4 linked regions of the Homo sapiens genome follow. The protein of the gene in region 4 interacts with the protein of the main gene of each other region in a pairwise test. Each region holds a gene or a part of one and is shown on either strand. Other genes may lie near its edges. The genes, in order: TTC33, KLF15, BAHD1 and COL26A1.

Region 1 (7,030 bases), on a different chromosome or scaffold from region 4:
TAAAAAAGGCCTTTTCCACCATAGATTAGAGATACCATTCTATATTTTCTTCTATTAATTGCATAGTTTTACCTTTCACAAATTTTTAATCCCTCCAGGGTCCATCTTTGTGCATGGTATTAGATACAGACACAGTTTTATTTTCCTCTAGGTAGTAATCCAGTTTTCTCAACAGAATCTACTAAAAAATTTGTCTTTTCCCCACTGACTAATGAAAAATGATTTTTGGTCCTTCTTAAAAATCTAAGCAGAAAAAGGAGAAAAGGAATAAAAAAGTAAGAAAAAGAGGAAAGGAAAAAAGAAAAAAGAAATGGGTGCATATAGGAACAACTTAGCTAAAGAAGGGCTAAAAATAAATGAAGCTATTATCAACTTCCTGTACAGCAAGTCATATTTACTTAAGTATATAAGAAGTAAATGGCAAAGAATAACTAAATACCTATTTTTTTTTATGTATGTGCCCTCAAAGCTATTCAGGAAATGCCTAATTTACCTGATACATAATGTTATAAGCAGAAAGTTTCCAGTGATAAGACCACCTTTTACTGACCAATCACTTGAATTACATTTTACTTAGCATTTACTCTTCTTTAGGCACAACAAAAATGATGGCAAAGCAGGGACATAATTAGCATCCTGAAAACTATTTTACAAACTTTCATTGCATCCTGAAAACTATTTTACAAACTTTCATTTTTCAGGTGACTTTGAAACACCTTATTTCTTTGATTAATTTAGCACCTAGAATAGATTTTTAAACATGAATTTATCAAATTCATAACTCTTCATCCCATTACGGACAGTGAGCTAGAAAATGTAAGCTCTTCTCCATAAAAAAAAAACTTTAAATACATACCTTTTATTTTCAGCCAAACTGGCTCCTTCATCCTTCAGCTGTTTACTTTTCTCAGCACAGCCTTCAAGAAGAATTTCTTTCCTACGTTTAATGGCATGAAGCCAGTTCCCTTCATCGTTGTCAACTACATCCTTCTCATCAGCAGCTTCAGCTTCAAACTGCTGGGAAGTGACCTTTGAGACCTTCTCACCAATTTTCCTCTTCCACCCAAAGGAAGCCATTCTGGAAAATTACAAAGAAACAGCTTTAAAATTCTAACTTGATCTTTTTTTTTTTTTGAGATGGAGTCTCACTCTCGTTGCCCAGGCTGGAGTACGATGGCACGACCTCGGCTCACCGTAACCTCCGCCTCCCGGGTTAAGTGATTCTCCTGCCTCAGCCTCCCGAATAGCTGGGATTACACTCATGCACCACCCACACCGGCTAATTTTTGTATTTTTACTAGAGACGGGGTTTCTCCATGTTGGTCAGGCTGGTCTCAAACTCCCGACCTCAGGTGATCTGCCCATCTCGGTCTCCCAAAGTGCTGGGATTACAAGCATGAGCCACCACGCCCGGCCCAAAACTTGGTCTTTTATGGAAGTATTCCAACCCATAGGTAAAGAGGAAATAACAGGATTAGACTATCACCATTTTTCAACCCTAATTAGTGGCTGTAGGCAATAATCATCAATGGCCACTAACATCACTAAGAAAGACAACTGGACATCACACACCTCCTGATGGAAGTAGCATGTCACTCATGAAGTAAGTACTCCTACAAAAATTAACCCTGAGTCAGATCAGGCCTCTACCTATAAGAAATACAGGATAAAGTGAAGCATGCTCAATAACACATCAGAGATGCAGATAGCAAAAAACAGAAACTAAAGGAAAATAAAGCTGGTTTCTTCAAGAAATAAACTGCCAGGAAAGAAAGAAGAGAAAGAACAAGGTAACCCCTAAATTAAGAGAGACTTAAGAGACATACTAACCAACATAACATGTGGATCTTGTTTCACTCCTGATTCAAAAAAGCCAATGAGAAGAAAACTTTTTTTTTTCTGAGACAAAGTTTTGCTCTTGTTGCCCAAGCTGTAGTGCAACGGCCCGATCTCGGATCACTGCAACCTCTGCCTCCCAGGTTCAAGCAATTCTCCTGCCTCAGCCTCCCGAGTAGCTGGGATTATAGGCAGGCACCACCACGCCTGGGTAATTTTTTGTATTTTTAGTAGAAACGGGATTTCACCATGTTAGCCAGGCTGGTCTCAAACTCCTGACCTTAGGAGATCCGCCCACCTCGGCCTCCCAAAGTTCTGAGATAACAGGCGTGAGCCATTGCACCCAGCCAGAAGGAAACATTTATGAAATAGGAGGAATGGGAACACCGATTTGATATTTGATGATATTAAGAAATCACTGTTTTGTTTTGTTTTTTTGAGATGGAGTTTTGCTCGTTTCCCCAGCTGGAGTGCAATGGCACGACCTCGGCTCATTGCAACCTCTGCCTCCCAGGTTCAAACAATTCTCCTGCCTCAGCCTCCCGAGCAGCTGGGATTACAGGCATGCGTCACAATGCCCTTCTAATTTTATATTTTTAGTAGAGATGGAGTTTCACTATGTTGGTGAGGGTGGTCTTGAACTCCTGACCTCAGGTGATCCACCCACCTCACCCTCCCAAATTGCTGGGATTACAGGCGTGAGCCACCGCACCTGGCAAATTATGGCTATTTTTTCTTTGGTGTGATAATGGTATTGTAATTATGCTTACAAAAGGAACCCCTAGGTTTTAGAAATATAAACTGAAATATTTCATATAAAATTATAAGACATCTAGGAATTGTTTTAAAGCAATCAGTGGAGGTTGGGAGTGCAATGCAAGAGAAAATATACATGAAATTAGATTGCTTTTAATTGATAACTAATGAAGTTGAATGATGAGTACATAGTGTTCATTGTACTTTTTCCTTTCATATGTGTTAAAATTTTCCATAATAAAAAGGTTTTAAAAGATTCAAACTTGGTAAACGACTTAACTCACAAAATTATTGGGTAAATTTTAAAATAACAGATGCTGGCCGGGCACGGTGGCTCACGTCTGTAATCCTAGCACTTTGGGAGGCCAAGGCCAGTGGATCATTTGAGGTCAGGAGTTTAAGACCAGCCTGGCCAAACCCCATCTCTACTAAAAATACAAAAATTAGCCAGGCGTGGTGGTACATGCCTGTAATCCCAGCTACTCAGGAGACTGAGGCAAGAGAATTGCTTGAACCCGGGAGGCGGAGGTTGCAGTGAGCCTGGGCAACAGAGCAAAACTCCATCTCAAAAAATAAATAAATAACAAATGCTGAACTTTTCAGTAAATCTGCAATGATATACAAATGTAAGAAATAAAGAGAGGATAAATGATAAAACAAAGTTAACAGAAATCCTGAAATAATTCAACAAATATTTATTTAGAGAAGAGATTAACTGAGGGATCCAAAAATTTACTAGTTGTATAGATGGTCTTCAAGATACTAAGAAACACTGGGAACTGTATATAAATTGTACAAAATTCTTTATATCTGTGTACATTTTGGAGAATAGTGTTTAAGCTTTCATTCCATTCTTAAAGGAGTCTATAACCACAAGGAGATTTTGATCAAATGATCAACTAGAGAAACAGAGAAAAAAAGCAATGAACCAAAAAACATAAAGAAAAGAAAAGCAACGAATCAGAGGGCTTTATGAAACTACCAAAGAATGGGCACTGTGGGAGTATGGGAGGGAGAGAAATGAAATACTGCATAAGTTCGAGCAGGTTTCAAGGTCTTCATTACTGATGCACATGGCTGAAGTGATGTATAAGTACAGGCCTATCTCAGAGTTGTTGCACGGTCAGTTCCAGACCACTGCAATAAAGTGAATAATACTAAAAAGTGGGTCACACAAATGCTTTGGTCTCCCTATGCATATAAAAGTTATGTTTACACTATACTATAGTCTAATTAAGTGTTATAGCATCATATCTTTAAAAATGTACATGCCTTGCTAGGTGCAGTGGCTCACGCCTGTAATCCCAGCACTCTGGGAGGCTGAGGTGGGCAGATCACGAGGTCAGGAGTTTGAGACCAGCCTGACCAACATGGTGAAACCCCGTCTCTACTAAAAATACAAAAATTATCCGGGCGTGGTGGCATGTGCCTGTAATCCCAGCTATTCAGGAGGCTAAGGCAGGAGAATCGCTTGAACTCGGGAGGCAGAGGTTGCAGTGAGCTGAGATTGCACCACTGCATTCCAGCCTGAGCAACAGAGCGAAACTCCATCTCAAAAAAAAAAAAAAAAGTACATGCCTTAATTTAAAAATATTTTATTGCTAAGAAACGCCAATGATCATCTGAACCTTCAGCAAGTCCTAATCTTTTTACTGATGGAGAGTTTTTCCTCAATGTTGATGGCTGTTGACTGATCAGGGTGGTGGTTACTGAAGGCTGGTGGCTGTGACAATTTTTTAAAATAAGACAACAGCGGTCAGGCATGTTGGCTCACGCCTGTAATCCTAGCACTTTGTGAGGCTAAGGCAGGTAGAGGGCTTGAGCCCAGGAGTTTGAGACCAGCGAAATCTCATCTCTACAAAAAATTTTTAAAAACTATCCAGGCGTGGTGGTACACATCTGTAGTCCCACCTACTCAGGAGACAGAGGCAGGAGGATCACCTGAGCCCAGGAGGTTAAGGCTGCAGTGAGCCATGACCATGCCACCGAACTCCACCCTGGCACCCTGGGTGACAGGATAAGACTTTGTCTCCAAAAAAAAAACAACAACAATGAAGTTTGCTGCATCGACTGATTCTCCCTTTCACAAAAAATTTTTCTGTAGCATGCAGTCCTATTTGGTAGCATTTTACCCACAGCAGAACTTCTTTCAAAATTAGAGTCGATACTGTCAAACTCTGCCACTGCTTTATCAACTAAGTTTATATAATGTACTCTAAGTCCTTTGTTGTCATTTCAACCATGTTAACAGCATCTTCACCAGGCGTAGATTCCATCTCAAGAAACCACTTTCTTTGTTCATCCCTAAGAAGCAACTCCTCATCCTTTCAAATTTTATCATGAGATTGCAGGAATTCAGTCACATCTTCAGGCTCCACTTCTAATTTGAGTTATCTTACTATTTCCACCACATCTGCAGTTATTTCCTCCACTGAAGTCTTGAACCCCTCAAAGTTATCCATGAAGGTTGTAATCAACTTCTTCCAAATTCCTGTTAATGTTGATATTTTGACCACCTCCCATGAATCACAAATATTCCTAATGGTTATCTAGAATTAGAATCCTTTCCAGAAAGTTTTCAATTGACTTTGTCCAAATGAATCAGAAGAATCACTATCTATGGCAGCTATAGCCTTACAAAATGTATTTCTTCAATAGTAAGACTTGAAAGTGAAAATTGCTCCTTGATCCATGGGCTGAGGAAAAGATGCTGTTGTTAATAGGCATGAAAACAACATTAATCTTGTACATCTCCATCAGAACTCTTGGATGACAGGGTGCACTGTCAATGAGCAGTAAAATTTTGAAAGGAATCTTTTCTTCATGAGCAGGTCTCAATAGTGGGCTTAAAATATTCAGTAAACCATGCTGTAAACAGATGTGCCATCATCCAGGCTTTGTTGTTCCATTTATAGAACACAGGCAAAGTACATTTAGCATAATTCTCAAGGGCAACAGGATTTTGAGAACGGTAAATAGACATTGGCTTCAATTTAAAGTTCCCAGCTACATTAGCCCTCACAAAGGAGTGAGCCTGTCTTCTGATGCTTTAAAGCCAAGCATTGACTTCTCTGCAGCTATGAAAGTCCTGGAGAGTATCTTCTTCCAATAGAAACCTGTGTCATCCACATTGAAAATCTTATGGCCATGCGCAGTGGCTCACACCTGTAATCTCAGCACTTTGGGGGGCCAAGGCGGAAGGATCACAAGGTCAAGAGATAGAGACCATCCTGGCCAACATGGTGAAGCCCTGTCTCTACTAAAAATACAAAAATTAGCTGGGCGTGGTGGCGCACGCCTGTAGTCCCAGCTGCTCGGGAGGCTGAGGCAGGAGAATCGCTTGAACCCAGGAGGCGGAGGTTGCAGTGAGCCAAGATCATGCCATTGCACTCCAGCCTGGGCAACAGAGTGAAACTCCGTCTCAAAAGAAAAAAAAAAAAAAAAAGAAAATCTCATTTAGTGTAGCCAACTTCATCAATTATCTTAGCTAGATCTTTTCTGGATAACATCAGCATTTGCTGCTTTACTTTGCACTTTCATGTTATGAAAATGGCTTCTTAAACCTCACAAACGAACCTCTAGCAGTTTCAAACTTTACTTTGGCAGCTTCTTCACCTCTCTCAGCATTCACAGAATTGAAGAGAGTTAGAAACTTGCTCTAAATGAGGCTCCTGCTTAAGGGAATATTGTGGCTGGTTTGATCTATCTAGACCATTCAAAGCTTCTCCATATTAGCAATAAAGCGGTTTTTGCTTTCTTATCATTTGTGTGTTTACTGAAGTAGCACTTTCAATTTCATTGAAGAACTTTTCCTTTGCATTCACCACTTGGCTGTTTGGTGCAAGAGGCCTAGCTTTCAGCCTGTATTGGCTTTCAACAGGTCTTCCTAAAATCATTTCTAGCTTTTGATTTAAAATGAGAGATGTGTAACTCTTCCTTTCACTTGGACACTTAGAGGGCATTGTAGGATTAACTGGCCTAATTTCAATATTGCTGTGTCTCAGGAAATAGGGAGACCCAAGGAGAAGAAGAGAGATGGGAATAGCCAGTTGGTGGTACAGCATTCAAAACACACATTTATTGATTAAGTTCACCATCTCATATGGGCATGGTTCATGGCAACCCAAAATGATTACAATTGTTAACACCAAAGATCATCGATTACAGATCACCATAACAGATATAGTAATAATTAAAACATCTGAAATATTTCAAGAATTACCAAAATGTAGCACAGAGACACTAAGTGCACACATGCTATTGGACAAATAGCACGAAAAGACTTGCTGGACACAGGGTTACTGAGCACTTGCAATGTGCAAAAACGCAGTATCTATGAAGTGTGATAAAGTGAAGCACAATAAAATGATCCCTGTAATCACTAGAAGGAAGGTGAGAAAAAAAGTGAGGGTGGCTATGAGGTCATTCACATGGAAAG
Region 2 (7,855 bases), on a different chromosome or scaffold from region 4:
AGTCTATGCAGCCATGCCTCTGGGGGCACAGACACTATTTGGCAGGCAGGGTGGGGCCATACACTTGTTGTACAGACACAAAAGACACAGGCATATTTTTATTTATTTATTTATTTATTTATTTATTTATTTATTTATTTATTGAGACAGGGTCTTGTTCTGTTGCCCAGGCTAGAGCGCAGTGTGCAATCTTGGCTCACTGCAGCCTCCACCTCCTAGGCTCAAGCAATTTTCCCACCTCAGCCTCCCAAGTAGCTGGGACTAACTACAGGCACACACCACCATGCCTGGCTAATTTTTGTATATTTGTAGAGACAGGCGAAACTGCCCTGTTGTCTAGACTGGTCTGGAACTCCTGGACTCAAGCAATCCGCCCGCCTCGACCTCCCAAAGTCCTAGGATTATAGGCGTGAGTCACGGTCCCCAGCCCAGAACATTATTTAGAACAACAACAACAACAAACAGAACTGGTAGGTGGCACTGGCGCTGAGTAGAATTTTTACTTTTTGTTTCATGCCTTTCTGTAGTGCTTGAACTTTAAAAATGTGTGCAGGTGTTATTTTTAAAAGAATTACTTAAATGAATGGCCTGAACACCAGTCTGGGAGGCTTGAAATTGAACCAACAGGGGACAGAGAATCCCATGGCTTTCATCCTATTGACAAGGTGGCCACTGTTTCCCTGGCTTCTAGCTTTTGCCGGGCTTGGTACACCCTTCCATGAGAGAGCCTGGAGTGGCGGCCACTCCCATTCCCTAGAGCTAACCTGCCCTGCTCTGTGGTCTCTTCCTGCTCCTTGGTGCTGCTCCTTGCTGCTCCCAGTGCGTCTCCCCAGGGTGGCGTCCATAGCCCCCTTCACACTCGTCCTTATCACCTGCACCACCGTCATCCTGCTGGGCCCCCTACACTGCACTGGGATCTCAGGAGGCCCTGGCAGTGTGAGTGGCATCTCATCTCCGCAGCAATGCTCGGCACTGGCAGGACGGCTGTCCAGGAGCAGTGAATACATATCAGAAGGAATGGTAACAGCCTGTAATGAATCTCTGTACTTTCCAATGCCTTTTCCCATCTCTTACTTTGGTTATCTTCAAACAACCTTTTGAGGTAAGTAGGATAGGGGTCTGAGCACCCATTTTATAGATGAGGAAACTGAGGCTCTGAGAGACAAACTGATTTGCCCAAGGCCACTCAGCAGTGAGGGACTGTGTGAAAGAACCAGAGTCCAGGCTGCCACGCATGTACAGCCCCACTAGGCTGGGGTTCAGGCTGCCTGCCTGCCTGGAAATCTGTCAGGTGTCAGAGAGACCACAACTCATGGCAGAGACGGGGATGAGGGGAAGCTGAGGAGCCCTCTGACCCCAGCACCACACTGATGTGTCCATGGACCAGGGGAAGCTGGAGCTCTCATCCCACCTCAGCCCCTGCTGCTTCTGGATCCTCCGGGCAGGGGTATACCTGGGGCTTTGCCAATGCTCAGAGCCAGGGGCAGAGGCTCTCAGGGCAGAGGCTCTCAGGACTCAGCCCTTCTCTGTGTCTTCTTGGACCACCAGGTCCCCAGGTCCCTGGGCTGATGTTCCTCAAAGCTAGGTGTGCTCAGGGCTGGGGGGCTGGGGGTGGGGACAACACTGGTCATGAGAGAGGAGTGGGCCCTCATCTGAGTCGCCTGGTGTCAGAACAGACCTGACCTCTTGTCTACACAGCACCAGGGGTCTGCTTGGTGGGGAAACGGTCCAGCCCAGCCTGAGGAACCTCCTGCAGCATGTTTTTCCTGGCCCCTGGGCACCAGCAGCCCTTCTGCCTGCCTATTCCCTAGCCTCCAGCTCAAAACCACTTCCTGAGCCCAGAATGGGTAGGATCTCTTCAGCACCCCAGCCCTTAGAGGAAGAGGTGGTGAGAAGGTAAGGGACTCTGGCCAGAGACCCTTGAAGCATGGCTGGGGACAGGGGAGCTGAGAGTAGGGGGAATTGTTGCTTCCCACCTGGGAAGGGTGAGGAGAAGTCAGTCACTGTGGGAGGTCACAGGGCTTGATGGCCACAGTGGGCCCTTTGTGCACAGACCATTGAGCCACTGAATGGGGCCCTCAAAATGCTTCCTGGAAGAGGGCAGGCTGGGCTCAGACCCCCGGGCAGGCATGAGCTAGTGGGGAGGCTGGAAGTCTCAGGTATGTGTGTGGAACAGGGGATGAGGACAAGATTGGTGGCTACAGTACTGTGGAAGAGAGCACCAGACCTTGAAGAGCTTCTCCAAAGATCCCATATCCATTGGCAGCTTTACTGGGGCAAGAAGAAAATCTCATTTCCTCAACATGTTTCAGAAGTGTTCTAGGTTCTGGGGATACAGCAGTGAATAAAAAAATACAAGTCCATGCTCTTAAGGAGCTTGTCTCCTGATAGGAGAGACAGGCAAGAAACAAATCAATAAATAATATAAAGATCAGGATCATGAAGCAAAATAAACAGAGGCCAGGAAACTGAGGGCAGCAGATGTGCTGTTTTAGACGGGATGGGTGAGGAAGGTGTCTGGGATAAGGTGGCATCTGAGCAGAGACCTGAGTATGCGATGGAGCAATCCATGCAGCTGTTTAGGGGGAAACAAGAGACAATAGAAGAACGTTTCCCTGAACGAAGAAAGACTTGAGTTTCCAGATTAAAAGGATACACCAAGCATAGAGTAGTAACAATGAAAACAGAAGGAGGCTAGAGTCAGACATATCCTGGTAAAATGTGTGAAATTCAAGCATGGAGAAAGATCACTCCAAAAAGGCACCAGGCCCAAATGGTTTTATAGGCAAGGTCATACAATATTTAACCAATATAATTTATATCCTTCCAAGGCCCTTTTCTATACTTGATTATGTAGAAGTAGGGAAGGAATTGCTTTGGAAGAAAAGAAACTTAGAGATTTTCACTGCTATGAAGATAAATCTTTACTGTTTTTGGTCATCTGTTTTGAAGAGCACCACCTGACTTTGTTCTCTCCTTTCTGCCAAGGAATCTCAATGATAGATTCTCCCCACTATATTGAGGGAGCTTTTCTCCTTAGATATGGTTTGGGGTAAATGCTGTACCTAGCTGTAGGGCATTAAAGATTGTGGTGAAAACTTGGGCTTTACTTACTCTGAGTGAGTTGGGAGCTGCTGGAAGCTTCTGAACCCAGAAGGGACCTGATCTGACTCAGGTTTTAACAGGACCATCTTGGCTGTTCTCCAGTTTCTAGCCAGTGGGGCCTCCTCCCTGTGTGCTGAAGGTGCTAACGATGTGTCTTTGCTTCCAAGCTTTTTCTGACCTTTTGCTGCAGCTTTCACCAAGGAGATGGGAGGCACTAGACTGAGAGTATGTGAGGAGTGAAGACCGAGGGCGGGCAGGGCAGATGGAGAAGTGCTGTGGCTATGCCCAATCCAGACCTGCACTGAGACAAAATGAGGAATACAGGCCTCTATCTCTTCTCTTATGAAAATGGACAAATTCCACTGTTCTGCCCAGGCTAGCCAGGGCTGCTGTAATGCCAGAGTGGTCATTCCAACTTCTGTGAACTAGAAAGCCTCTCACCATCCTCAACACAAATGTCCTTAAAGCCCTCTGGCAACGCATTGGTTTGGCTCCTAGTGGCAGCAGCAGCTGAATCCCTGGCACTGACCTGGTGCACAGTGTCCCCAGATCCCTGGTCAAGCAAGCCTAGACCTATAGCATTCCAGAGAGCCTGGAAAGGGTATGGTTAAAAATTCCTGTTCTAGCAATGTCTTCAAGAAGAAGCAGGAGAAAATGCTCCCCACCTCCCAGTGCCAGGAGGGGAGAGGAAGGAAGCTCAGTAGGACAGCTCTGCACAGGTGGCCTGGGGGTGTCTGCAAGATGACCTGGCTCTACCTCTCTACCTGCTCCTTCCCAGCTGTGGGGCTGGGGAGGGCTGGTGCCCTCTCTGAGTCGGTTTCTTCATCTGTAAAGTGCTTGGCTGAGGATCCAGCTGGAGTGTGGATTAAAGGGCACAGCAGGGTGCCTAGCACCGTCAGCCCACGTGTTTTTCTTGGGCAAGCCACTCTGAGCCTTACTCTTCCTGTCTCTAAGCGGGAACCCAAATGCGAGCCAGGATTGCTGCGGACTAAAGCAGTCTACGAACGCTTTTGTAGACTGCGAAGCATTGTTTGGTCTTCAGAAAGGTGCCCCAGAGACAAGGTGTCATTGGTTTCAGGTGGGGGGGGGGGGGGCCGGTCAGCAAACCTCCTTAGTCCTGGAGGGCAGGGTGGCAGCGCAGAGCGCGCGCAATTTCCGGAGGGTAACTGATTGTCCTGCTGAAAGCCCAATACCGTATTTATCCAAAAATACGTCCTTCTAGGCAAGTGATTTATCTGACACTCAGCGGGGGACAGAGCTGCTTGTACCGCGCTGGGGATGAAGGTGGGGACGTGGGCCAGACCGGGCCAGACAGGCTCCCCAGCGCTTCCCGCTCAATCACGCAGACTGCACTTTGGGGCGATCTCAGAGCTTTTCTTAAGTCTTCAGGCCAGTCTCACGTTCTCACCTTGGGAACCGAGCTTTAGAAGCCGGCCCTCGTGGACGCCGCGAGACAGCGGCGAGAGGTGGGAAGCAAGGAGGTGGCTGCGGGCCAGGGACCAGGCAGCGTGTTGGGGGGCGTGCGCGTCTGGCAGCTCCGGGATCCCCGAGCATCCGCCGCTCAAGTCCGGGAGCCGCGCGGGCGGGCCGGGGCGGGGCCAGGGCGGGGCCAGGGCGGGGCGGGACGTGTGACGCGCAGCGCGGGCCAATGGGGCGCGCGCCCGGGGCCGAGCCTCCTGCGAGCCTTCGCGGCGCCCGCTGCGTCACGTGAGCGGCGGGGAGTGAGTGCCCAGCGAGCTGCGGGCGGGCTAGTGCTCCGCCGCAGCGACCCGCGGGCCGGCGGGCGATCGAGCCAGCGCAGGACCCGCGGCTCGGCCCCCGGCCGCCGCCGGACCGAGAGTCTAGCCGCCGCCCCCAGCCCAGCCCGCCCGGCCGCAGGACCGCCGGGGCCTGGCCGCCGGTCCGGCGTGCGCCAAGTTCAGGTGGGAGAGGCGCGGCGGGGCCGGCCGGCCGCGTGGACGCGGCCCCGGGTGATCAGAGGGCTGGCCGGCCTCGGGGCGCGTGGCCGTGCTCCCGCGCAGCTCTCGGAGGCACCGCGCGAGTGCTGGAGGAATGTCGGAGGAGCGGGATGGGCCCCCGCGGAGGTGGGCAGGGGTCGGACTGGCCCGGGGGAGGTGACCCCCCCCGCCCCGGTCGCCCACCAGCACTTTGCTGAGGCCCGCGCCGCCGCCTCGGTGCCTGGCCGGGCGATTCCGTGGCGCGCCTTGCGGGCCGGCCCTCCCATATGGTGGGCACCGGCGCGGCCTGGTGAGAGGAGGGGGAGAGCGGACGCGCTGGCCAGCCCGGGGTTGGGGGGCGGAGGGGCTGGAGACGGAGGGGTTACTGTCGGTCACCGCAGCAGTGTCGGGGGCAAGGGGGGGGCGTGGGACGAGGGCATGGTGCCCAGCGGGCAGCGGTCCAGGACTCTAGAAGGGGTCTGAGCCGGCTCTCTTCATTTCCCACGCACGTTTCCCCTCACCCGCCGGCACCCACGGCGGCTCCACGCGCGAGTCCTTCGCGGACAGCCTCCCGCACAGCCACAGCGGCTGCCGCGCACCACGCCCCGCACACGCAGTCACACGACAGGAACTCACACCCCTTCACGCACACCCGCACCGTTCACGCGTCTCACTCCACGCTGAGTCCCCGTCCGCTCAGACCGAACATTACCAAAGCCATGGCCTGACCGAGGGATGGCGGCGGCGGGGCAGAGAGGCCGTCCCCATCCCATATGGTGGTCCGGTTCACTCTTCCCTCCCCGCCTTGGTGTTACTCATGGAACCCCCCTCTCACGGAGGGCACAGAGGGGCTGTTTTCTCCCACGGCCCTCGGAGGTGACAAAATCAACAATTGTTTGAGAGCCTCAAATCTCCTTCCCCCTGTCCCCCCGGACCAGGTGGCCCCTGGGGAGACCCTGCCGCCCTACAGGTGTGAGGACGCCCGGACTCTGCGACTTTGGGGCCTGCGGGCGGCTCAGGGACCGGAGACTCTTATTTTGAAGGACAGCCCCCGCCGCCACCCCCGTGATTTGCACGCTGACCCAATGGCAAGCCCTTGGCCGGCGCTGGGCTTGTTATCAATTACATGTTGTTCCTGCAGCCGCTGTGTCCCCGGGAGGATAAACAGCAGGCCTGGCCGGGCCAGGGGAGGGGGCGGAGTCCGGCGGCCAGCCGGGGACTGTGCCCGGAACAGCGTGTCCCCTCCCCCTGCACGCAGCCTGCGCCTCTGGCCGCCCCACGTGCTGCTGTGTTTCAGGGGCCGAGCCAGCTCCAGCCCTAGAGTGTCCTCTCTTTAATGCCGGTGCCCTGGGACATCCCAGAGCCCTTTCTGGGTTGTCAGTGCCTGGGTGCTTCCCCCTTGGGACGTTCAGCCCAGCATTAAGACCCTGTTGGCTGACCTGGGCCACCCATTCCTACTCTCCGACCTCCCCCGCTCTCCCCCGCACCTTCCATTCACTCATTCAGCAAATTTTGCCCGGTCCTGTTTTAGACTCTGGGATATGGCCTTGGAGTGAACAGTCAGGACAGCTGATATTCTGATGGGAAGGTAGACAGGGAGGAAAGTTCACAAACACATCACCAAGATAGTTTCCCACAGTAGAAACTGCAGGGAAGAGTATAATATAGGATGATGTAACAGAGTGGGCCTGGAGGCCCCCACAGGGGTGACTTCTGAGCCGAGATCTAACTAAGCAGCTCCCACCTGCAGTGCTGGGGGAAGAGCCAGGGCAGTGGCCCCGGGCTGAGGCTGAAGTGAAGTGAGCACACCTGGACTAGAAGAGAGGCAGTTGGTGGTGAGGTCTGCAGAGAGTCCCAAGGGCCCAGGTGCTGGGCTGCTGCGAGGAGATAGGGCCACCTGTCCTTGGGAAGCCATTGGAGGGTGTTTCCTTCCAGCCCCCCTACTGTACTTTTTAGATCACTTTATCTGTCAATATCTGTTTATATGTTTAAAAGGTAAGGCCTCCTTTAACCACAATATGATCATCACAATTAAAAATATTAACAGTAATTACTTAATATCATGGGATGGCCAGTTAGTGATCACGTTTCAGGGGAGGGCTCTAAGGCCTGCTCTGGGTCCCAGGAGGGCTGGAGGCCCCTGATTCCTTAACATCACAGTAGAGGGGCAGAGGCCGAACGTTTGCCGTGCCTGCAGGCTGACACCAATGGCTGGCACTGGCTGAGTGCTGCCGGTGTGCCAGATCCTGAGGGGGGTGCTTAGTGAGCGTCAGCTCACGGAATTCTCACAACACCTGAGGAACCAGGCACTGTTGGAAGCACCCCCATCTCACAGACTGAGACAGACACAGAAAGGCTGTGCACCTGCCTGAGGTCACCTGGCAGACAACTTGCAGACTCAGAAATGGAGCCCCTGCTTGGAGGGTGGGAAAGGGTTGGGGGAGGCCCAGGGTGGAGTGTGGGCTCTGCCCAGCCTTGTGCCCTTCACAGTGTCTAGCACTTTCATTCCTTCCCAGCACCTGATTTGGTGAATAGGTGCATTTTAAAACATATTCCAGGTTTAAATCCTTAGCTGAGTATTTAAACCAAAAAGCCAAATGTCCTCCTAGTAAAACTGGCCTGGGGCACAGACCTTGCCTTAGTTTCCTGGAGCTCCGTGAAGCTTCCTGGGTAAGTTGGGAACTGGGGCTAAAGGTCCTGGGGTCCCTGAGCAGGAAGAGACTTAGAGATCTTTGAAGCATGGAACAGATGAGGAAACTAAGGTTTGGGAAGGGGAGCAAGGACTTGCTCAAGGTTGTAGCTGATGATGGTAT
Region 3 (7,030 bases), on a different chromosome or scaffold from region 4:
GGGTTTTCACCATGTTGGCCAGGCTGGTCTCAAACTCCTGACCTCAAGGGATCTGCCTGCCTCGGATTCCCAAAGTGTTAGGATTACAAATGTGAGCCACTGAGCCCGGCCCAAAAGCTAAAGTCTTAAAGCAGGAAACAAATGCAACTTTTCCCAGACTCGCCCCTATTAGCTCCATGTAGGATGACTCCAGGCAGGGGTTGGGGGGCACCCCTTAACTCTGGGCTAAGGCTCCCTCAGACCCTCCCATCCAGATGCCATACTGCCCAGGATCAGCCAGAGGCAAACCTACACCTGCAGCAAAACCCATTTGCTCTGAGCAGCTAACAATGTGGGAGAAATAAAACAGGAATAAAACAGGGGACAGGGCACCCCAAAGCTCAGCAACAGGCCTCAGCAGAACCAGGGAAAACCTTGTGCTACTGATGCACCATTCTTCAAAAAACATGAACAGCTCACCAGCCTTCTCCAAGCACCTGCCCAGGAATGGCAAAGAACGAGTGTTGGTTCAACCACCAGGACATTACATGGACCAACAACTTAGATTTCTAAAATGGCTTGCCAAGACTACAGGTGCTAGCTCTAGTCCTGAACAGAAACTAGCCAGCCAGGCCAAGATGGAGCTCTGCCTCCAGCCTCCTCAGCAGAGCACTAACCTCCTGAATGAACCAGCTGTGAGGAACAAGATCCAAGACCAGGCCTCCCCCACACTCCACTAGCAGGAGCAGAATCGCAAGGCAGATCGTATCAGAGTTATGGGCACCCTACCCAAATATCACTCACTTAACTAGTTAAGTGGCTAGTGCCACCTCCAATAGGATGCCAGCCCTATGGGGACAGGTAGGCTCTGCCTTCCTTAACAGTAAATCCCACCCACATGACTTAATAAGAGCTTGGTAAGAATAAATGAAGATCTGGCTGTCCACCTGCCCCACCCTGTGTAAAATCTTTATCCTAGACTTAGAGCACCACTTGGAGCTCAAGACAAGAGCCCTCTGACCTCCAAACTCTCCTCCATCCCCAGGAGTCCACTGTGCATCTTCAATTTAATCCACAGTGCAACAAGGTTACAATAGGAAATCTCTTGTATTTTCATGGCACAACCCTCCTTCATTACCATCAATTTTCATTTTCTTTTTTTTTTTTTTTTTTGAGACAGGGTCTTGCTCTGTCACCCAGGCTGCAGTAGTAGGGCAGTGGCACAATTATAGCTCACTGTAGCCTCGAATTCCTGGGCTCAAACAATCCTCCTACCTCAGCCTCCCGAGTAGTTGGGACTACAGGCCTACACCACCATGCCTGGCTAATTTTTAAATTTATTTTTATTTTTGTAGAGACAAGGTCTCACTATGTTGCCCAGGCTGGTCTCAAAGTCCTAGCCTCAAGTGATCCTCCCATTTCAGCATCCCAAAGTGCTGGGATTACAGGCATGAGTCACCATGCCTGGCCTCATCCTCCTCCTTCTCTCTCCCAAGTTGCCCAGCTACCTCTGGAAAGCATTCCACTGGCTGTGGCTGCCCCTAAACCATTAAGCAAGTGAATGTAGTACTACAGACACTTGTATCAAGACAAAGAATGTCACAGATAGGTGAAATCAGGAGCAAAGAACTAAAGTTAGCATTATCAGTCCCCAGACACCCTAAGTGTGCAGGGTTGGAAATTTCTGATTCACTGCAGAGGTGACTACTGTAAAAGGATGGTCAATGTTTGTCAAGCACTCACTATGCACCTGGCAAGGTCCTAAGCACACTACATTCACTATCTCATTTATCTTCCCAACAGCCTTATGAGCTAGTTGTTACCATTTCATCCTAACAAGGAAAAAAAACAGGTACAAAGAGTTAAAAGGAAGGCTGGGCGCGGTGGCTCACGCCTGTAATCCCAGCACTTTGGGAGGCCGAGGTGGGTGGATCACCTGAGGTTGGGAGTTCAAGGCCAGCCTGACCAACATGGAGAAAATACAAAAATTAGCCGTCTCTACTAAAAATACAAAAATTAGCTGGGCGTGGTGGCACATACCTGTAATCCCAGCTACCTGGAAGGCAGAGGTTGCGATGAGCCGAGATCACACCACTGCACTCCAGCCTGGGCAACAAGAGTGAACCTCCGTCTCAAAAAAAAAAAAAAAAAGAGTTAAAAGGAGATGCTGGGTGGGCGTGGTGGCTCACACCTGTAACCTAGAATTCCTGTGCTGTGGGAGGCCAGGAGTTAAAAGACCAGCCTGGGCAATACAGTGAGACCCTGTCTCTACAAAAATAAAAAATTAGTCGGGCATGGTGGTGTGTGCCTGTAGTCCCAGCTACTTAGGAGGCTGAGGTGGGAGGATCACTTGAGCCCGGTAGGTGGAAGCTGTAATGAACCATGATCATGCCATTGTACTCTGGACTCGGTGACAGAGCTGGCTCTTAAAAAATAAAAAGTTGCTAGGATTGAGGACAGAGGTGAGCCATCCTGGCATCTACACCAAGGCCCACACTTCCTGCACTGCAACACACTGCCTCTACTTAGGGCATCACAGGATGGCTGCTGGATCACAGACCAAGATGCAAGATAACTTGCACGTTCAGTTTTATTTTTCTGTGCTTTAATTATTGGCATTACCACACATTATTAGTTTTCCCACCACAGAGGAACTGAAGATGTACTCCAATTAAATGGCATCTATGGGCTAGAACGTAAATACAATTAAAAAAATTTTTTTTGAAAGAAACTTTTTTTTTTTTTTGAGATGGAGTCTTGCTCTGTCATCCAGGCTAGAGTGCAGTGGCGCAATCTCGGCTCACTGCAACCTCCACCTCCCAGGTTCAAGCGATTCTCCTGCCTCAGCCTCCTGAGTTGCTGGGACTACAGGCGCATACCACCATGCCCGGCTAATTTTTGTATTTTTAGTAGAGACAGGGTTTCACCATGTTGGCCAGGATGGTCTCGATCTCCTGACCTCGTGATCCGCCTGCCTCCCAAAGTGCTGGGATTATAGGCGTGAGCCACCGCACCTGGCCGAAACAAACATTTTATATCCTAGAAAAGGGTGACATGCTAAGAAGTCTGGGCTAAATAAATAAATGAATAAATGAGAGAGCTTCAAAGATACGTTGTCCTGATTTTATAGTAAATCCAGAAAAAGGTAACCCCCAACCATGCATCTACCCAATACCTCTTGTCTCAGGTGAAATTCCCTGCCTCCAGCCCAGACTGCAATGAAGACTAAAAACTGGTCATCATGCTCTAAACTGTCATCTTAACATGCAAAGACATATTAACTGCCCCTTGTCTACCTCCCTCTGGGCCAAATAAATTCAAGTCCTTTCAATTTCTCTGGAAATCATCTCTCAGTTATTCAATCATTTTTATTTTTATTTATTTATTTATTTATTTATTTATTTATTTATTTATTTATTTATTTATTCTGGAGACAGAGTCTTGCTCTGTCGCCCAGACTGGAGTGCACTGGCGCGATCTGCAACCTCTGTCTCCTGGGTTCAAACAATTCTCCTGTCTCAGCCTCCTGAGTAGCTGGAATTACAGGTGTATGCTACCAGACCCGGCTCATTTTTGTATTTTTAGTAGAGACGGGGTTTCAGCATGTTGGCCAGGGTGGTCTTGAACTCCTGACCTCAAGTGATCCACCCGCCTCAGCCTCCCAAAGTGCTGGGATTAAAGGTGTGAGCCACGGCACCTGGCCTCAATCATTTTTATAATTCTTTTTTACATTCTAGCCAATGTGGAAACCCCTCCAGGCACAAAGCAGGAGACACCCCTCACTACTGAGGAAGGCCCTGCTGGCCCTGACTATGGTGGAAACGTGACTTCACCCCTCCTTCTGGCATACTTGTTAGGATCTCCTGGCATCAAGCGGCACCCTAATAATACCTTTCCCACGATTTCTACATAGGTCCTCTAAAAAACAGTAATTCACCTTTAAACCACCTGGCCACATGAGAATGTGATTAACAATTATTCCTAAACATTGTGGACAGGTAACCAGAGTTGGAAAAGGGTCTGTGTGGGCTGCCCCTCTCCACTGCACGCAGGAAGCTGAAAAAGCTGCACTGATGGAGGCTAGGAGTCCCCAAAAGGCATTGGAGATGGAATAAAAGTAGGAGCCATCAACAGCACTCCAGGTGAGATCCCTGGGGTCAAGAGAACGGCAGAAAGACAGGTCCCATCCTCCTTACCCAAAGACAGGAGGTCAAAGCACCTCTTTTCCCCAAACCCACTGGAAAAGGAACACATGCAAGAAAAAATATTGAGACCCAAGTTCCTGCCTGACATTGGTAACAAGACTAAGAAATCACCTGTTTTTTTTCATTCAGCTAACTTGGTCATAGTGCTTAGAAATAAGTTCCCAATTCAAATCAGCGAGGCTGAGAGACAAACCCCTTTTTTTCTCCTGGTGGATTGGGCCTGCAGAGGATCTTAAAAGACAATGTTATTTTTTTGTGTTGGGGGGACACTGAGTCAAGTGAATAACCATCCTTGCAGGTGTTTCCCACTGGGAAAAATGAAATCTGATGACCCCACTCCCACCCACAGGGACACAACACAAAGTCCTGGATGTGACTGTACTCCAGGGCCTGCTTACCAAGTCACCTGGGGCAGGACACCAACACCCCTGTTGGAACCCCAGGGCTGGGCCGGTGTTCAGTGAGGGTGCTTGTCAGGCCGTCTGGCCCTGAGCAGACCACGTGCAGCCTCACTGCTGCTGGTGCTCTTTCTCCTCCTCCTTTTTAGCCATTTTACTGATCATTAGTGGCAGTACCAGGAGGTGGGCAGGGGAACATAAAGGAGCTGAAATTCAAACCAGCCCATTTTACACCACTTAGGTGCCTCCCATAAAACCGGGCAAGATTTCATCATCCAAGAACTCCCTGTCCTCTGTCCTGTGGAGGTCTAAGCAGCCTGAGGGGTCAGGAGCTACACCATCTCCAGACCCCAGGATCAGGAGCCTCTATCTCTAATTATCATGAGCTCTTGACTGCGCATGGTATTTTCTGTCACTTCAGGGTTAACAGGCATTTCCAGCCATGAGCTGGCCCATCAAGTCAACGCCAGGAAACCTGCAGAGTGGGAGTGCTGGGGCTGCCCTCAGAACCGAAGCACACTCTCCTTGTCCCTCCAAAGTCCCCAGCACAATGGCAAGTTCACAAAGGAAGTGAGCCTTGCCAGACTGTGCTAGCAAATTCCCATAAATACTTGGGTCGGGGTAGTACTGCTTATGTAAAATGCTTCCCCATTGAGAGATGCTGCTTTATTTACATTCTTCACAACCCATTCATAAAAAGGAGGCCCTTTAATGTCGGGGCTGTTCGTATAATGCTCCATAAACTCGGCAGCTTCGCCTGGCAGCCTTAGTTCAACACAGGCTACTTCTCAACTCCAGAGACTTTTTTTCCTTAAGGTTTTTATTCTCCTTAATGACTCACCTTGCGACAGGGTGCTGAGGCCAGATGTTGCCGGAGCAAGGCCAAGAGGAATAAGAACAGATAAAATGAAAACACACAAGTCCTCCTGGATGCTGGAACAGAGAGGTGAGGAGGAATGAAAATAATTTTGAGAATTCCCCATAGAACTCCAATTTGAAGTATGTATGCTAGGAGGCTGAATTCCTTCCAGGTTTACTAAAACTTCCTTTCTGGATGTCAAATGTGCCCCAACTTATACCTCTAACCAGAGAAGGTGTGAAAGGGTTGTTTTTTTTTTTTTTTTTTTTACCCAAAAGGAGCTCTCTCTAGTTTTTAATTTGCACCGGGGATGAATAAATAAACAGAAATTTTCTCTGTTTCTTGATATAAGTGTTCCAGGGGCTGCTGGCTCCAGAAGGGGCACAATTTGCTCAGAGTGAAGAAACTCAGGCAATCCCCAGAAAGAGAGGAAGGACTGTGTTCTAGGACACACAGCAAACACAGCTAAAGGAGCTGAGAAGAGAGCCCAGGAGATGCATTCTGAGGTAGCTTTTCTCCTGCTACAGTAGAAGGAGGAGAGAAGTAGTAGGGATTTTTTTTTTAATTGACGGGGGAGCGGTCTGCATTGCCATGGCAACTGTGAGGGGTGGCCTTCCCGCGTAGAAGGGAAATGCTGGTCCATTAATCATCAAACTGGGGCACAAAAGGGAGGTTTGGGGGAAAGGGGATGGATGCAGAATATATTTTTTCACTATCTGGCCTCTAACCAGTCACCAGTCCTCTTTCCCGTTTCCCCCATGGTCCAGGGTTGATGGTGAACCAAAACAGAAGCCTGAGAGAGCAGGGATTGTAGCTTTCCTTTATGAGGGGTCCAATGTGGGGCTGATTGTGCCTCTTATGTTGGTGATGCCCCCATAAACACCTCTTCCAAACCAGCCCCAAAAGTCCCATCTATGGGCCAGACCCAGGAGTATTTTTCTTTTCTGTGCTCAGAATTGTGTTTTCTCCCTCATTTGCACCCGGTTTGAGAAGAGATAAAACATGGATTCATTTAGCATGAACAACAAGGAAAACTGCATAAGAGCAGCAAAGCTGGGTAGAAAGAATGGTGGTCCGGTGAGGTAGGAGGAAAACAGGATTACAGCCCTTTTCCAATGTCTATATGGTATCACATAAGCAATCCATAGGACTCTTCACCAGCAGAAATATTAGAAACAGCAGTTAAATTTCCCATTTACAGCACCCCAAACATGCCCTATCCATATGCCTTTGACAGAAAGGGCTGGAAATCTCCAAGGACTCCAATATGAGCATTTCTGGAGAAGCTGAAAGGAAGGTCTCCCCCTTGTTCCTGCCTAACTCAGCAACCAACCACATTTATTCACTCAACAAAAATGATGTGCACAGCACTGTACAAGAAATACCAGAATATTCACACACACACACACACACACAGAGGTTTAACACTCATATTGTTCCTGTCCTTAAGAAATTTCCAACCTACAAAACCACTCAAGAGGATACCACGTTAGAAAATCCAGAGTCATGAGCTCAGGCGGGGATGACTATGTTGGCCTGGAGTGGTCTGAGCAACAACCAGACTAAGGACAAGTGGGATTCAAGTGGGA
Region 4 (4,680 bases):
TTGGGGACACGACACTGACATCCCTGTCCCAGACCCTGTAATTGGCTCAACTTCCCATTGTCTTTGGTCCCCTGGTGGGCAGACCTTTCTCCTATAACCCAGTAGGATGCTTTTTGGTTTCCTTTTGTTTCATTTTAAGCTAAATTAATCTGAACATAAGACAGATCTGTCATGTTACACCAGCAAAAGGCACCCATTCTGCTGCCAACTCCCAGGGCTGGGCAGGATGGGGACAGTGGCTTTGTCTCCTCATCATCACTTTTCAGAGTGGCCTCGACACCTGCCTTCTCAATAAGTCAGCACCCTGTCTTGGCTGACTCAGGTGTCTCTGTGCACAAGGTCCTCTGCTTGTGTGCAGACCGGGCCCTTGAAATACAGACTCTGCCATCACGCCAGCCTGCCTGCCTGCACTTTGAAATGGTGGCTTTCTCTGCTGTCTTTCTTGCCTGGCATGGCCACACCTACCCTGCCCCTTGCCTGCTGTTTGGTGGCGAGCTCTTGGGCATTCAAGGAAGGAAACAAGCAAAGAACTTCCTACCTTCGGGCCCTGGGATAGGTGCTCTGTCCTGGTTAGGGTATTTTCAGGACATGTGGGGGAAGCTGACAGGCAGCTATGGTGGAAGGAAAAGCTCAGGCTGGAGGCTGACAGGTGTGGATCTGCAGTCTGGATCGGCCGCTTTGCCAGGCTGTGTGGCCGTGGGGAGGTTGCCTGCCCTCTCTGTGTTTCAAGCTCTTTGTCTGTGAACAGGGTTTGAAGCCCTGTCTGGCACATAGTTGATGATGTTCAGTCTATGCTTATTTGCAGTGGTGAGGGTGTCGGGTGGGAAGAGGCAGGGGTGGGGGGCTTTGAGGACACATACACTGTCACTGTATCAGGATGGCCCTGACCCCTTCCTCATGGCCGGCCCTGACCCTGCCTGTTTCCTCCCCGCCAGGGCGAGGGGGTGCAGCAGCTGAGAGAGGCCCTGAAGATCCTGGCAGAGCGAGTCCTCATCCTGGAGCACATGATTGGGATCCACGGTGAGCAGTGACCAGGATCAGCGGGCTGGGAATCTCTCTCCCCTCCTTCCTCTCCCAATGCTGCCCTCATGGCTGCTGCCTAGGGTCTCTGGTCTCCCTCCCTTGCCCCTAGTCTGACCCTCCCCCTCCCCTGCTCAAGGACCCTCAGTGGCTCCCTGCTGCCCTTGACAGACTTCCAAGTGCATCAGCCCAGTTTCCCAGCCCCTCCCTAGTATAGCCATGGTGGGCAGAGCCCTGCCCAGCCATGTTGAGGCCCCTCCCACCTCCATGCCTTTGCTCGGGCCATGCCTCTGCCTGGTGAACACTGACTGCCACTTCGGGACCTGCTCAAAGATCTCGGCCTCTGTGAAGCCTTCTCTGAACCCTCCTCTTTGTCCCTATGGTGACATAGGGGAGGCTTCCATTCCATGCTGGGGTTTCTGTGACCCTCTGGGAGTCCCTTGTGCAGAACAGTGAATGATACCTCTGCAGGGCCTGGAGTAGAGGCCCATCAGCATTTGCTGGAAAATGAATGGATGAATGAATAGGTGAATGGACAGGTGGGTGGGTGAGTGAGTGAGTGAACGAATGGCTGGTTGCCTGGATGAATGTATGCATGGGTGGATGCATAGATAGATGAATGAATGAATGAATGAATTGTTGAATGGACAGGTGGATAGGTGGATGAGTGAGTGGATGGGTAGATGCATGGATGAATAAATGAATGGGTGGATGGATAGATGGATAAATGGATGGATGGATGGATGAGTGGACAGGTGGGTGGGTGAATGAGTGAATGGATGGATGGATGGATGATGGATGAGTGAACAGGTGGGTGGATAAATGAGTGGATGGATAAGTGGGCAGGTGGGTGGGTAAATGAGTGAATAGATGCATGGATGAATGAATGAATGGGTGGATGGGCGGGTGAGTGGACAGGTAGGTGGGTGAATAAGTGAGTGAATGGATGGATGGATGGATGATAGATGGATGGGTAAATGAGTGAATGAATGGATAGATGCATAGATAAATGAATGACTGAGTGGATGGATGGATGGATGGATGGATGGATGGATGGATAGATGCATAGATGAATCAATGAGTGGATAGGTGGGTGGGTGGATAAGTGAGTGGATGGATGGGTGGATGGATGGATGGATGGATGGATGGATGGATGGATGGATGGATGGATGGACGGGCAGGTAAATGAGTGAATGAATGGATAGATGCATAGATAAATGAGTGACTGAGTGGGTGGATGAATGGGTGAATGGATGAATGGGTGGATACACAGATGGATGAATGGGTCAATGGACAGGTGGATGGGTGAATGAGTGAATGAATGGATGGATGCATGGATCCATGAATGAATGAATGCATAAGGGGCTGAAAGCCTGCTGCTGCCTTGCTTCTCCACGCTGGGCAAGAGCATCTCTCCGTGGCCACATATCATGATCAAATGTACCCCCAAGTGTTCCTAAGGCTCTACCTCGAGTCCACCCTCCTGCTCTCCTTCCAGATCCCCTGGCCTCCCCAGAGGGAGGTTCTGGCCAGGATGCTGCCCTGAGAGCCAACCTCAAGATGAAGAGGGGTGGCGCCCAACCCGATGGGGTCCTTGCTGCCCTGCTTGGGCCCGACCCTGGACAGAAGAGCGTGGACCAGGCCAGCAGCAGGAAGTGAGAGCCCACTGCTCCAGGACACCCTGTCCTGGCTAGAGACCCAGCCCCAGAGGCCTGAGCCGCCGCTGTTTCCTAAAGATGCCCCCAGGGGAACTGGGCTCCAGGCATGGATGATTGTGAGGACATGGGGGGCTTTGGGGACAGATAATGTCTCCAGGGGCAGGGTCTGGAGGGGCCAACACCCTCATCAGAGCCCTCCTCTGGCCTGTCCCCTCCCCTACCCCCACTCCCGGCTGGAGACGGGGTCTGGGTGGGCTGGGTGCTGGGAATGAGAATAATCCTAATACCCATCATTTATTGAGTCCCTGCTGTAACTGGCCCTGTCCAGGGAACTTTCGTTACGTTGTCTCATTATTTAACCCTTAGGAGGTAAGCTTATTATCCCCACTTCACAAGGGGACCGAGGCTCAGACGGTAGAAATAACCCTCTCTTGGCCACCAGATCACGGGTGGCAGGGGCAGGATTTGAACCCAGGACCCTCAGTTCCTGAAGCCATGTTCTCTCGACCCTGCCAGCTTCCCCTCTTCGAGAGAAAACTCAGACAGGGAGGGCGCAGGGCCAGAACGGCTCCTTAAGGCAGGCAGGGCTGCGGGGAGGCTGGGCCAGCCAGCCTGAGGGGGTAGGCAGGGTCCTGCAGGGCCTGGGGCTTCCCTTCCTCATCCCCCTTCCCCACTGGCTGGGGGAGCAGCCTGGACTGCAGCTCTCAGAGGCCAGGGAGACCCTGAATAAATCACTGCCAGCCATACGGACTTGAGGACCTTGAGAGAGAAGCATTGGGGGTGCAAGTGTCCACCAAACCAGATAGGCATCCCTGGCCACTGCCTCCCAGTCTTGCTGAGCCCACCCGCTCTCTCTGGGTCCATCCCATCCCTGAGCCAGGGGAGGCAGCATTTCATGGGCATGTCTATCAGAGGTGGGACTTGCAGCCTCTGCCCCACGAGTTTGTCTCTCAGTGGACTCTATAGGTTTGCTACTTTTGCATGACACAGCAAGCCCAGTGTCCCCTTTGCAAGCTGCAGAGAGGGAAACAGAGTCCCAGGCCTGCTGGGAAGAGATGCTCCTGCCTCCCACCTTCCAGAGTTGGGGGCCTGGCAGGCTCCATGGCAGGCACCAGGTCCCTAGCAGCCCAGAACAGCTCTGACTGGAGCCCTCAAGGCCTCTGGGGCCAGGGTCTCCGTGATCAGCTCAGCCCTGGTGTTCCTCTCTTGCTGGGCTGGGACCTGGGACACAGCCACGGCAGCAAACTCAGAGAATTGAAGGTGCTGGCGCCACCCTGGGGCACTCTGTCTTCACAGCAGGAGTGACTGTCTCCAGTGCTCTTGGTACTCCTGTTTGGCTGTGGCCTGGTCCCTCTGGGCCCTGGGATCTTCTTCTGGCCCTTGAGGCAGGTCTGGAGAGGCAGTCTCTGTCTTCATGGAGGGGTGGTCAGAGGCGGGCGGGACCACCAGCCTGTAGCGTTATTATTATATGTGACAATAAAGGTGCTCTCCCCACTGTGGGTCTGTTTGTGTGGTGACAGCTCTGCAGGAGGCTGGTCTGCATCTTACCGGCCAGGTGCCAGGGAAGCTGTGAGCAGCTCCAGCCAGGCCCGGGGTGACCACAGGGCCTCTGTGGCAGGGAGGTCCAGCTCTGCCCTCAGGACCTCCAGGGAGGGGGCTGGGAGTGACACACGATAGGCAAGCCCCGGATTGGGGCTTAACCTGCAAGGGCTCTTGGCTTCACCCAGCAAAGAATTCAAGGGCAAGCTGGAGGCAAGAGAAACAGCTTTATTGGAGGGGCAGGACTACAGCTCCATGACTGCTCGTGCAGAGCAGGGCTTCTCCCCAGGCAGAGAATAGCAGCTCAGGGCAGTTCTGCACCATATTTATACCTACTTTTAATTGCATGCAGATTAAGGGCTGGTTTATGCAGAAATTTCTAGGGAAAGGGTGGTTATTTCCGGGTCATCAGGTCTTTGCCATGGAAAAGGGCAGTGGCTCCTGAGTGTTGCCATGGTGATGG

What was found.
Region 1: the proteins of COL26A1 (region 4) and TTC33 interact in binary tests that used the Homo sapiens proteins (3 or more experiments, as listed by UniProt).
Region 2: the proteins of COL26A1 (region 4) and KLF15 interact in binary tests that used the Homo sapiens proteins (3 or more experiments, as listed by UniProt).
Region 3: the proteins of COL26A1 (region 4) and BAHD1 interact in binary tests that used the Homo sapiens proteins (3 or more experiments, as listed by UniProt).

Annotation. Positions count from the first base shown.
Region 1 is NC_000005.10:40,745,942-40,752,971, forward strand, and holds part of TTC33 (tetratricopeptide repeat protein 33), read right to left. Parts: intron 1,079-7,030; 5' UTR 1,078-1,078; coding exon 857-1,077; exon of another isoform or gene 1-856.
Region 2 is NC_000003.12:126,354,409-126,362,263, reverse strand, and holds the start of KLF15 (Krueppel-like factor 15), read left to right. Parts: upstream 1-4,855; 5' UTR 4,856-5,027; exon of another isoform or gene 5,028-5,157; coding exon of another isoform or gene 5,158-5,189; intron 5,190-7,855. UniProt on the Homo sapiens protein: Transcriptional regulator that binds to the GA element of the CLCNKA promoter. Binds to the KCNIP2 promoter and regulates KCNIP2 circadian expression in the heart. Is a repressor of CCN2 expression, involved in the control of cardiac fibrosis.
Region 3 is NC_000015.10:40,443,937-40,450,966, reverse strand, and holds part of BAHD1 (bromo adjacent homology domain-containing 1 protein), read right to left. Parts: exon of another isoform or gene 5,566-7,030; coding exon of another isoform or gene 5,424-5,565; intron 1-5,423.
Region 4 is NC_000007.14:101,554,852-101,559,531, forward strand, and holds the end of COL26A1 (collagen alpha-1(XXVI) chain isoform 1 precursor), read left to right. Parts: intron 1-935; coding exon 936-1,020; intron 1,021-2,518; coding exon 2,519-2,679; 3' UTR 2,680-4,173; downstream 4,174-4,680.